3 separate regions of the Homo sapiens genome follow, and all the other regions are linked to region 2. Evidence: fine-mapped QTL for protein levels in blood plasma. A gene starts in region 2. Each other region holds a variant in brackets. All regions are shown on one strand. Distances are from middle to middle.

Region 1 (4,242 bases), 71 kb after region 2:
CATAGCATTCTCTGATGGTAGTTTGTATTTCTGTGGGATCAGTGGTGATATCCCCTTTCTCATTTTTTATTGTATCTATTTGATTCTTCTCTCTTTTCTTCTTTATTTGTCTGGCTAGTGGTCCATCTATTTTGTTGATCTCTTCAAAAAACCAGCTCCTGGATTCATTGATTTTTTGAAGGGTTGTTCATGTCTCTATCTCCTTCAGTTCTGCTCTGATCTTTGTTATTTCTTGTCTTCTGCTATCTTTCGAATTTGTTTGCTCTTGGTTCTCTAGTTCTTTTAATTGTGATGTTAGGGTGTTGATTTTAGATCTTTCCCGCTTTCTCTGGTGGGCATTTAGTGCTACAAATTTCTCTCTAAACACTGCTTTGGCTGTGTCCCAGAGATTCTGGTACATTGTGTCTTTGTTCCTATTGGTTCAAATAACTTATTTATTTATGCCTTAATTTTGTTATTTACCCGGTAGTCATTCAAGAGCAGGTTGTTCAGTTTCCATGTAGTTGTGCAGTTTTGAGTGACCTTCTTAATCCTGAATTCTAATTTGATTGCAGTGTGGTCCGAGAGACTGTTTGTTATGATTTCCATTCTTTTGCATTTGCTGAGGAGTGTATTACTTCCAGTTGTGTGGTCAATTTTAGAGTAAGTGTTATGTGGTGCTGATAAGAATGTATATTCTGTTGATTTGGGATGGAGAGTTCTATAGATGTCGATTAGGTCTGCTTGGTCCAGAGCTGAGTTCAAGTCCTGAATATCCTTGTTAATTTTCTGTCTCATTGATCTAATATTGACAGTGAGGTGTTAAAGTCTCCCATCATTATTGTGCGAGAGTCTAAGACTCTTTGTAGGTCTCTAAGAACTTGCTTTATGAATCTGGATGCCACCGTATTGGATGAATATATATTTAGGATAGTTAGCTCTTCTTGTTGCATTGATCCCTTTACCATTATGTAATGCCCTTCTTTGTCTCTTTTGATCTTTGTTGGTTTAAAGTCTGTTCTATCAGAGATTAGGATTGCAATCCCTGCTTTTTTTTTTCTTTCGATTTGCTTGGTAAATATTCCTCCGTCCCTTTATTTTGAGCCTATGTGTGTCTTTGCATGTGAGATGGGTCTACTGAATACAGCATGGTAATGGGTCTTGACTCTTTATCCAATTTGCCAGTCTGTGTCTTTTAATTGCAGCATTTAGCCCATTTACATTTAAGGTTAATATTTTTATGTGTGAATTTGACTCTGTCGTTACGATGCTAGCTGGTTATTTTGCCCACTAGTTGATGCAGTTACTTCATAGTGTTGATGATCTTTACAATTTGGCATGTTTTTACAGTGGCTGGGACCGGTTTCTCTTTTCCATATTTAGTGCTTCCTTCAGGAGCTCTTGTAAGGCAGGCCTGGTGGTGACAAAATCTCTTAGCATTTGCTTGTCTGTAAAGGATTTCATTTCTCCTTCGCTTACGAAGCTTAGTTTGGCTGGATATGAAATTCTGGGTTGAAAATTTTTTTAAGAATGTGGAATATTGGCCCCCACTCCCTTCTGGCTTGTAGGGTTTCTGCTGAGAGATCTGCTGTTAGTCTGATGTGCTTCCCTTTGTGAGTAACCTGACCTTTCTCTCTGGCTGCCCTAAACCTTTTCTTCCTTTATTTCAACCTTCATGAATCTGACAATTATGTGTCTCAGGGTTGCTCTTCTTGAGGAGTATCTTTGTGGTGTTCTCTGTATTTCCTGAATTTGAATGTTGGTCTGCCTTGCTTCGTTGGGGAAGTTCTCCTGGATAATATCCTGAAGAGCATTTTCCAACTTGACTCTATTCTCCCCGTCACTTTCAAGTATACTAATCAGACGTAGGTTTGGTCTTTTCACATAGTCCCATATTTCTTGGAGGCTTTGTTT[GTTTC/C]TTTTCATTCTTTTTTCTCTACTCTTGGTTTCACACTTTATTTCATTAAGTTGATCTTCAAACTCCAATATCCTTTCTTCCACTTGATCGATTTGGCTACTGGTACTTGTGTATGCTTCACAAAGTTCTCATGCTGTGTTTTTCAGCTCCATCAGGTCATTTATGTTCTTCTCTAAACTGGTTATTCAGTTAGCAATTCCTCTAACCTTTTTTCAGGTTCGTAGTTTCCTTGCATTGGGTTAGAACATGCTTCTTCAGCTTGGAGGAATTTATTACCCACCTTCTGAAGCCTACTTCTGTCAATTAGTCAAACTCATTATCCGTCCAGTTTTGTCCCTTTGCTGGTGAGGAGTTGTGATCCTTTGGAGGAGAATAGGTATTCTGGTTTTTGGAATTTTCAGACTTTTTGCACTGGTTTCTCCCCATCTTCGTAGATTTATCTACCTTTGGTCTTTGATGTTGGTGACCTTTGGATGGGGTTTCTGAGTGAACGTTCTTTTTGTTGATGTTGATGCTATTCCTTTCTGTTTGTTAGTTTTCCTTCTAACAGGCCCCTCCTCTGCAGGTCTGCTGGAGCTTGCTGGAGGGCTACTCTAGACCCTGTTTTCCTGGGTATCACTAGCGGAGGCTGCAGAACAGCAAAGATTGCTTCCTGTTCTTCCTCTGGAAGGTTTGTCCCAGAGGGACACCCACCAGATGCTAGCCAGAGCTCTCCTGTATGAGGTGTCTCTCAACCCCTCTGGGAGGTGCCCCCCAGTGAGGAGGCACAGGGTTCAGGGACCCACTTGAGGTGGCAGTCTGTCCTTTAGCAGAGCTCAAGTGCTGTGCTGGGAGATCCTCCACTCTCTTCAGAGCTGGCAGGCAGGAATGTTTAATTCTGCTGAAGCTGCGCCCACAGCCACCCCTTCCCCAATGTGCTCTGTCCCAGGGAGTTTAATCTATAAGCCCCTGACTGGGGCTGCTGCCTTTCTTTCGGAGATGCCCTGCCCAGCGAGTAGGAATCTAGAGAGGCAGTCTGGCTACAGTGGCTTTGCCAAGAGGCAGTGGGCTCTGCCCAGCTGGGATTTCCCTGCAGCTTTGTTTCCACTGTGAGAAGAAAACTGCCTATTCAAGCCTCAGTAATGGCAGACACCCCTCCCTACATCAAGCGCGAGTGTCCCTGGTCAACTTCAGACTGCAGTGCTGACAGCGAGAATTTCAAGCCAGTGGATCTTAGCTTGCTGGGCTCCATGGGGTGGGGATCCACTAAGCTAGACCACTTGGCTCCCTGGCTTCAGCCCCCTTCCAGGGGAGTGAACGGTTCTATCTTGCTGGCATCCCAGGTGCCACTGGGGTATGAAAAAAAACTCCTGCAGCTAGCTCAGTGTCTGCCCAAATGGCTGCCCAGTTTTGTGCTTGAAACCCAGGGCCCTGGTGGAGTAGGCACCCAAGGGAATCTCCTGGTCTGTGGGTGGCAAAGACCATGGGAAAAGTGTAGTATCTGGCTGGAGTGCACCGTTCCTTATGGCACAGTCCCTCATGACTTCCCTTGCCTAGGGGAGGGAGTTCCCTAACCCCTTGTGCTTCCTGGGTGAGATGACGCCCCACCCTGCTTTGGCTCACCCTCCATTGGCTGCACCCACTGTCTAACCAGTCCCAGTGAGATGAGCCGGGTACCTCCGTTGGAAATGCAGATATCACCTGCCTTCTGCGTTAATCTCACTTGGAGCTGCAGACCGGAGCTGTTCCTATTCGGCCATCCCGCCAGCCACCCCATGTTGAACTTCTAACTCAGAGAACTATAAAAGTACAAATGCTTGTTGTCTAAGCCAATAAATTTGTGGTGCTTTATTAGGGCAAAAATAGAAAACTAGTATAGATTGGGGGAGCTGAAATTGGATGCTGCTGTAACAAATAACTAAATATGTGGAAGTGACTTTGGAATTGGTTGGTGGAAGCTGGAAGAATACTGAAGATCATGATTTTTAAAAAGTCTATAATGCATTGAACAGACTGTTAGTAGAAAGATTGACTTTAAGAAATTGTGTCCTGCAGTTATGTGGCAATCAGAACTTAGAAACAATGAAAGTGGACATTTAGCTGAGGTGATTTCCAAGTAAAGTATTTTGAAGTACAACTTGGTTTCTTCTTACTGTGCTTATAGTGAAATGAAGAGGAAAGAAATAAATTGAGGAAAGAATAATTAAACAAATAGAATCCAGGATTTGATGATTTGGGAAATTCTCAGATGATCCAGATTATAAAAGACATGAAAATTAAGAGATTCACTGTCAGGGAAGTGTATGCTAGAGAAAAAGCTAAGGGTGTGGCTAGAGTATCTTTTATTAATATCTCAGAAAGATCAA
Region 2 (4,242 bases):
CTTTATCCTAAGCAAGGAAAAATGAAAAAACAAAAATAAAATAGATTACCATCACCCCACAAGAATATAGACTTCTATATTAAAACTCTATTAAATCATATGCCTGTTATATTAAAATATACGGATTAATGCTCACAATATTTCAGTAGCCATTCTTTGTCTCCTTAAAATTACAAAAATCAAAGTTATTTTAACACTAATGATGAATAACCTCAAAACCAAATCTATTGTATTTAGTGTGCTCTCACAGTTACAGTCCTCTGAGCCATACTGAAGCGCAGTAATTAAAATCCACAGGGATGGTACTAGCAGCAACAGTGCACAGCACAGTACTTGTTAGAGTTATCTGCGCCCCACCCAGCTTCTACACACTAGTGCACTATAGAAAGGTAAATATACTATCAGAAGACCCAGAGTTTAGGCCACAGTATGCTTAGGCCACAGCACAGCAAAATCTACCTCCAGGTACATCTTACCATTTCTTCGTACACTCAACCATGAGCTCCTGGTAGGAGGCCACAAACTGGAACTTGGATGCATGTTTTCCCACACGCTGCAGTCTCTTCCAAACTGAAGCCATGATGATCAGTCAAGACACTGGAGCAGTTCTGGGTTAGCAATACAGCAGCTTTAATAATGCAGAGGGTCCAAAGCAAAGGAACTTTGCATGTATGTCTTTTAAAAACTCAACTACAACTCGAAATGATGCTTGGGGTCCATAAGTCTTCTCCCTGTTTCACAGGGTAAATCCCATCTTAGATGAATGGCCCAGTCAAGAACACTATGATATACGTGACAGGATGAGTGGGAAGGGGTTCCCTCATGGAGACATCACCATGCCACCTCAGGGGCTATATGATGGGTATTCTGGAGGGCTGAAAAGCAAAACAAAGACAAAAAGAGAAAGAATATGAGGAGAGAATCATGAGAAATGACTAACCACCCATGTTAAATAACGCTGCAAAAGACCATCCCAGTTCTCTGCATGTCTTTTAAACAATGAAACAAAACACTGACCTCAAAAGCCAGTAACATCAAGGATGCAAGACACCAAGGAAGAAATTACAATTCACACCGAAGACGTGGAGCGACACATCAGGTAGTCAGCACCAACAACAATCCAGAGAGACGGTAACTCGGGGCCCTACCTCCCCCTGTTAGCATCACTGAAGGGCGAGCAGAGCGGGAAAGTCTAGGGATGCTGTTTAATGTCCACCGCCAGAAAGAGGGAGAAGTGGAGTATTTTTTAATAAACTTTGTTTTTCAGTCGATAATTAATAGCCTCAAGTCCGACAATATGTGCTTGGAACAAATTAGGGAGCCAGGAGGAATGCTATTTTTCAGTCGGAGGGAGGAAATGGATGGGGAACGAGGAGTGGAGGGAAATCTCCAGGCAGAGAGAGGGCAATGTCCCGGCTCCAGGCCACTTGGGCTCCTTCGCTGCCAACCGGAGGGAAATGGAAACTCCTGCCTGGGGGTGAAGCAATGACCAGCGGGGCAAGTGGACTGTGCAGGGTGCGGTGCCTCCCTCCCCCATCCTCAGGGAAACAGTCCGCCGGAGCCCAGTCTCCTCACGCACGGAGCCCAGACCCCTGCCCCCCAGCGGAGACAGGCGGTGGCTCGTCCGCGGTCCCTGTCACCCAGGCGATACCAGAAGACCCCAGCCCGGACCCCGAGCCCCGGCCCCGCCGCTCGTCCACTCCCGCCCCCTCCTCACACCTCTAATCCCGCTGTCGGGCTGAGTCTGGCCCCGTTCCCTTCTCATAGCCGCTCCTCCGTCGCCGCCGCAGCAGCAGCCGCCGCCGCCACCGAGTCCTCCATCCCCGCCGGAGCCACATGGAACAGCCAAGCCAGCCACGGCGCTCGCGGTAGCCGGGATCTGCAGCCCCTCAGGCGGACGGCGCCCCTCACGCCCACCCCCTCCCTGACAGATCGCCCCGCGACCGTCCCCCACCCTACCAAGCCCTGCCAGAGCCACCGCTCAGCGCCCAGCACCCCCTCCCCCGCCTTTCTCCTCCGCCACCATCATCATTACCTCCCCCGCCGCACCTCTCACACTAACCCTACCCACGGCAGCTCAACCTCCACCGCCCCGCCGCCATTGGCCAGGCCCCGCGCGTGCCCCGCCCACCTCGGCGGCCGGGTCTTACAGCGGCTGGGGCACCTCATTGGTAGAACTGCCTGCCCATCACAGGGGCTCCGCCTTGCCCTTGCTCGGGAGGTGGTTTTTCCCCGAAGCCGGAATGCGACGCACAGGCTACCTTTTTTTTAAAAAAAAAAAGAAGGAACCGACTAAGGACGATCCCGCCCGTTCTTCTGATTGGCTTGGAGAGGGAAGCGATAGGCGGGAGGAATAGGGAGTGTTTATAGTGAACTGCAAGGTGATTGCAGAAGGTGGCTGTCCGTCAAAGGCGCCGCTGGTGCGGGGCTGGGTTTCTGGCCCCTAAGGGTGATTGCAGACCTAGAGATTGGCTTCGCTGCAGCTGTGGGCAGTGCAGCTGCCTGTGGGTTTCTCTCCTGTTCTCATCTCCGCCAGGACCTGGGCGCGCCCTCTCCTCCGCCACTGGCAACTAGGGTTTTTGCGCATAGCCTTTATTTCACCAGTTCCTCCTGGGATCTTACCTGACAACCTGAAGTAATGACCCTGTCAGGCACCCCCCGACACCCCGGCCGCTCCCCGCCCAACATAGAGTCAACTGGTCTTCAGTGGGATTGAATCAGCTGAGCTAGACACAAAATGTGTACAGTACAATTTCTTATTGTTCGGAGTCTTCAACATTTCTTTGAATCTTGGTTTCCTCTTCGCTGTCGGACTCTTTTGCCCCTAGTGAGAACTGTAGATGGATTTGGGAACAGCTAGCATATAAAAAGGGTGGTCAAAGGCAAAAAGGAGGAGGCAGAGTGAGGGCAGGGACACTCAATCTTGTTAAAAGAGCCAAGGGCCCTTTTGAGAATATGAAAGCTACAGATACTTTCTCAAGGGGGAAAAAGTGTTCTGTCTCAAAACACAAAAAATTGTTTTCAGTTTTAGGTGGTTCACAGACCCCTGGTGTGGAGAAAGAGGACAAAGAATGAAACTTCAGGGGAATCCTAGCATCTAAGGAATAAACAGAGTAAAATGGGAAAGAGACCGAGAAGGAATAATCAGAGAAGTAGGCGCATCAGCAAGCTATGGGCAGACAGTTTGGAAAAAAAAGAGAGGCAAGCTAACATAAAAAGAAAGCAAGCGGGATGGGTTCTGGAAACAAGGATCATTCAATCTTACGAAGGTTGGAAAGCAGGGTGCATGGACAAAGTAGCTTGAAAGGTGTTAGGGTCTAGGGAGGATTCTTTCAGGGACAGGAAGAGAGAGCAGTGATGGGTGAGAATTGAGTCCATCTGTAGACATTGGGGGCCAAGACAAAGTGGAGAGACATGTTGAAGAATCAAGAGAGATGGGGAGACAGATATAAGGCTTGAATCCAGTATCTAATTCAATTTCCACTTTCAATAAAGAAAATGATCTAATAATACAAGAGCACAGTGTGCATTTTACAGAAAACAGCATAGTTATCGCTTATTTTGCTAGTCAATTCTAAAATGTTAAGATAATCGTAATAATCATATTGATTCTTATTTTCTATTAAGAGTTCTCTGATGTCCTTCCTGAGTGGTTTACGAAGTCACTACAACCTACAGCCATTATGATCTCATATAATAATATATTCTGCATCTTTAGTAGGCTTTAAGTGTGTGGAGTTTTTTAATGGCTTATTTGTAGAAATGGTCATAAATTATTTTCATCCAAGTTACCCTTCAGAAACAATCCACATGATGATCAGAAGGTTTTTGCACCCTATTTATTACTGTTCTCTGGAAGTTCTCAAACTTTCTTATGTGGTCATTCTGGTTTCTTTTAACATGCTTCCCTTACTCCAAAGGGAGAGGGGGAAGAGAGAAAAAATAGAGAGACTGACTTTATTGTAAAGAAATTCCCTTAAAAGTAATAAGTTTTAAATGGTGTCTTAAAAAAAAATAAAGGAGTAGGATCCCTAGGGAATCTTCCTCAAGTTGTGGAAAATTTCAAGAGACTGATAGTTTCTTATGACAGCTCTTCTTTTTAGGGGAAATATTTGTCTTGGATGTAAACTCTTATTTTTCCTTCTAGACACCAAGGTAGCTAAGAAGAGATCAAAGTTAGAATCGTTTACTAAATGAGTGAAGGAATTAAGAACAGCTCTTGACCCTGTTCTGCCACTGACC
Region 3 (4,242 bases), 61 kb after region 2:
AATTGACAAATGGGGTCTAATTAAATTAAAGAGCTTCTGCACAGCAAAAGAAACCACCATGAGAGTGAATAGGCAACCTACAGAATGGGAGAAAATTTTTGCAACCTACTCATCTGACAAAGGGCTAATATCCAGAATCTACAATCAACTCAAACAAATTTACAAGAAAAAAACAAACAATCCCATGAAAAAGTGGGCGAAGGACACGAACAGACACTTCTCAAAAGAAGACATTTATGCAGCCAAAAAACACATGAAAAAATGCTCACCATCACTGGCCATCAGAGAAATGCAAATCAAAACCACAATGAGCTACCATCTCACACCAGTTAGAATGGCGATCATTAAAAAGTCAGGAAACAACAGGTGCTGGAGAGGATGTAGAGAAATAGGAACACTTTTACACCATTGGTGGGACTGTAAACTAGTTCAACCATTGTGGAAGTCAGTGTGGCCATTCCTCAGGGATCTAGAACTAGAAATACCATTTGACCCAGCCATCCCATTACTGGGTATATACCCAAAGGATTATAAATCATGCTGCTATAAAGACACATGCACACGTATGTTTATTGTGGCATTATTCACAATAGCAAAGACTTGGAACCAAGCCAAATGTCCAACAATGATAGACTGGATTAAGAAAATGTGGCACATATACACCATGGAATACTATGCAGCCATAAAAAATGATGAGTTTACGTCCTTTGTAGGGACATGGATGAAATTGGAAATCATCATTCTCAGTACACTATCATAAAAACAAAAAACCAAACACCGCATATTCTCACTCATAGGTGGGAACTGAACAATGAGAACACATGGACACAGGGAGGGGAACATCATACTCTGGGGACTGTTGTGGGATGGGGGAATGGGGGAGGGATAGCATTGGGAGATATACCTAATGCTAGATGACGAGTTAGTGGGTGCAGCGCACCAGCACGGCACATGTATACATATGTAGCTAACCTGCACATTGTGCACATGTACCCTAAAACTTAAAGTATAATAATAATAATTAAAAAAAAAGAAAAAAGAAAAAGAAACTCACTCAAAACCGCTCAACTACCTGGAAACTGAACAACCTGCTCCTGAATGACTACTGGGTACGTAACGAAATGAAGGCAGAAATAAAGGTGTTCTTTGAAACCAATGAGACCAAACACACAACATACCAGAATCTCTGGGACACATTCAAAGCAGTGTGTAGAGGGAAATTTATAGCACTGAATGCCCACAAGAGAAAGCAGGAAAGATCGAAAATTGACACCCTAACATCACAATTAAAAGAACTAGAGAAGCAAGAGCAAACACATTCAAAAGCTAGCAGAAGGCAAGAAATAACTAAGATCAGAGAATAACTGAAGGAAATAGAGACAGAGAAAACCCTCCAAAAAATTAATGAATCCAGGAGCTGGTTTTTTGAAAAGATCAACAAAATTGATAGACTGCTAGCAAGACTAATAAAGAAGAAAAGACAGAAGAATCAAATAGATGCAATAACAAATGATAAAGGGGATATCACCACCGATTCCCACAGATACAAACTACCATCAGAGAATACTATAAACACGTCTACGCAAATAAACTAGAAAATCTAGAAGAAATGCATAAATTCCTGGACACATACACCCTTCCGAGACTAAACCAGGAAGAAGTTGAATCTCTGAATAGACCAATAACAGGCTCTGAAATTGAGGCAATAATTAATAGCTTACCAACCAAAAGAAGTCCAGGACCAGATGGATTCACAGCCGAATTCTACCAGAGGTACAAGGAGGAGCTGGTACCATTCCTTCTGAAACTATTCCAATCAACAGAAAAAGAGGGAATCCTCCCTAACTCATTTTATGAGGCCAGCATCATCCTGATACCAAAGCCTGGCAGAGACACAACAAAAAAAAGAGAATTTTAGACCAATATCCTTGATGAACATTGATGCAAAAATCCTCAGTAAAATACTGGCAAACTGAATCCAGCAACACATCAAAAAGCTTATCCACCATGATCAAGTGGGCTTCATCCCTGGGATGCAAGGCTGGTTCAACATAGGAAAATCAATAAACATAATCCAGCATATAAACAGAGCAAAAGACAAAAACCACATGATTATCTCAATAGATGCAGAAAAGGCCTTTGACAAAATTCAACAACCCTTCATGCTAAAAACTCTCAATAAATTAGGTATTGATGGGAAGTATCTCAAAATAATAAGAGCTATCTATGACAAACCCACAACCAATATCATACTGAATTGACAAAAACTGGATGCATTCCCTTTGAAAACTGGCACAAGACAGGGATGCCCTGTCTCACCACTCCTATTCAACATAGTGTTGGAATTTCTGGCCAGGGCAATCAGGCAGGAGAAGGAAATAAAGGGCATTCAATTAGGAAAAGAGGAAGTCAAATTGTCCCTGTTTGCAGATGACATGATTGTATATCTAGAAAACCCCATCGTCTGAGCCCAAAATCTCCTTAAGCTGATAAGCAACTTCAGCAAAGTCTCAGGACTTATAATTTTTGTCTCTAGAATGATAGACCTATCTGT[G/T]TAGAACTTATAGAAGCAGGTGATACTTAATTAAAGGTCACAATGATATGTTTTTTAGGCCAATATCACACAGAATACATGTGAGTTAGGCCCTAAAGTTTGGAGTAGTATGCTGTGATGATTTATACCTTTCACGGATGGTTTTGGTACTGCATGTTCTTTTTTAAAACACAATCATGAGTCTGCCTCCTGCATGCAAGGAATTACCTAGAAACAGGGCAATGAATTAAAGATGGCACAGCTCTCTTTGTTTAATGTTTCCTATTTTTCAGGGGTTTGTTTTGCAACTTTAATATTATTAATCTACACAACCTTTTACTTTTCATTCAGAATTTATATCAGAATCAAGCTAATAAATTAAAGATGAGTTAGTTCATTGTTGGGTGGTTTAATGTAGACCTAGTATGTTAATCCCGATGTGTTTGTTACTAGGGTTTTAAATTATTATTATTATTATTATAATATTTGCCTTGTAGCTGTGGTTAGGCAGCAGCAATAAATCAGAATAAAGGAATGAAGGTATTGGGGCTTTAGGGGAAACATATATTAGAAAAAATTGGTTTGGGACTAAGGGCTTTATTGCATTAAGATGGATTTTAGAGATACAGAGGTAAGAGAATGTAGACAAATAAACTGTATAAATAATTTGAGAAATAGTAAGTCTGTACAGGTCCCAAGTAACCCTGTAAGCCACCATCAACAGGACTTCGTAACTCCTGTTCAGACAGACCAAACAGGTACACTCTACTTAAACAAATAGCCAGGAGAAATGGGCACATGGCTAACGCTAGGGAAAGTGGGAGAAACAGATAAAGCTCTTTAACATAGCCCAAAGGATTGGAATAAAAGAAGTCAGTGTAGGAGTCTGACAAGGCATCTTCTGTGAATAGGGCTTTATAGCCACTCTAGGCGCTGATATTGCAAACACAGGCTAAGGCAACCAAAAGCTGGGAGCCTTACAGTGCAACACACCAGTGCCCGAGAATATAGTTCTCTGCAGTAGGGAATTCGTTTTGGCAGCCTGAATGTGGAGGAGACAGGAAGAAGCATTCAAATAAGGCTGAGCATATAAATAAATGACATGGTGTGAAAGATGAAGTTGATGGGAACAAGTTTGGACCATTCCAGGGACACGAGGAAGTACAAGGATGGCAGAAAGTACAGAAAGAATAGAAAGAGCAAAAGGGACCTTTCTTAGTAGCCTGAATGGTACCTGAACTGAGAGAGTCATATGTTCTGGAACAGATTTTATTCTCAACTAAAGCATAGAAGTTCTGTAGATAGGAAGAAACAGTTTTTTTTTTTGAAGCCTTGAACTTGCTTTTGTTGGTTGGATATGTCTGCTTTGTCCCTAGTTCTTTCATCTAAGTTGATCCAGTTACACATCACTGTGCAGGGAACAGACCCTGTCCTCATTCTTATCTTTGATGTTCCCTAGGCTCACTTCCTATTTGTTCACTTGACTAGCTATTCTCTGGCCCTGCTTCCCATCCCCTGGACTCTGCTTGAGGCTTTGAGCCCCTGTACTCTACCTTACTGACCTTTCCCTTATCCTTTTTTATTTACTGTCCCTTAGCTTCCCGAACAAGGTGTATTTGACAGGACATGACTGCTAGACCACTGGTGGTTATCTCCAAGATAGTAGTAATCATGATAATGACCATGCTGTCCCATACAGCCTGGCTATA

Which allele goes with the higher level. Positions count from the first base shown, and alleles are read on the strand shown. Strength reflects both the effect of a copy and how common the allele is.
As copies of C replace GTTTC in region 1, the plasma level of the protein whose gene starts at base 2,059 in region 2 goes up (weak association).
For the plasma level of the protein whose gene starts at base 2,059 in region 2, G is the low allele of the variant in region 3 and T is the other (weak association).

Evidence for each region. A credible set is the group of variants that fine-mapping cannot tell apart. PIP is the posterior inclusion probability: the model's chance that the variant is causal. The UK Biobank Pharma Proteomics Project read protein levels with antibody pairs (Olink). The fine-mapping took linkage between variants from a reference panel, not from the people measured, so its PIPs are less certain.
Region 1: its variant is the best candidate, but not a certain one, in a credible set for the plasma level of the EHBP1 protein (UK Biobank, PIP 0.78).
Region 3: its variant is the best candidate, but not a certain one, in a credible set for the plasma level of the EHBP1 protein (UK Biobank, PIP 0.61).

The regions. Positions count from the first base shown.
Region 1 is chr2:62,632,393-62,636,634 of GRCh38, reverse strand. No RefSeq gene overlaps it. Among named protein-coding and RNA genes, the nearest start is that of EHBP1, 71 kb to the left of the region's middle. The variant GTTTC/C (reference allele first, on the strand shown) is at 1,894.
Region 2 is chr2:62,703,530-62,707,771 of GRCh38, reverse strand. It overlaps EHBP1 (EH domain binding protein 1), which reads right to left and starts at 2,059. Exons shown (of 23, transcript NM_001142616.3): 1 at 1,720-2,059; 2 at 477-875. The coding sequence starts at 580. RefSeq lists silencers at 1,723-1,802, 1,923-2,182 and an enhancer at 2,213-2,352.
Region 3 is chr2:62,642,497-62,646,738 of GRCh38, reverse strand. No RefSeq gene overlaps it. Among named protein-coding and RNA genes, the nearest start is that of EHBP1, 61 kb to the left of the region's middle. The variant G/T (reference allele first, on the strand shown) is at 2,555.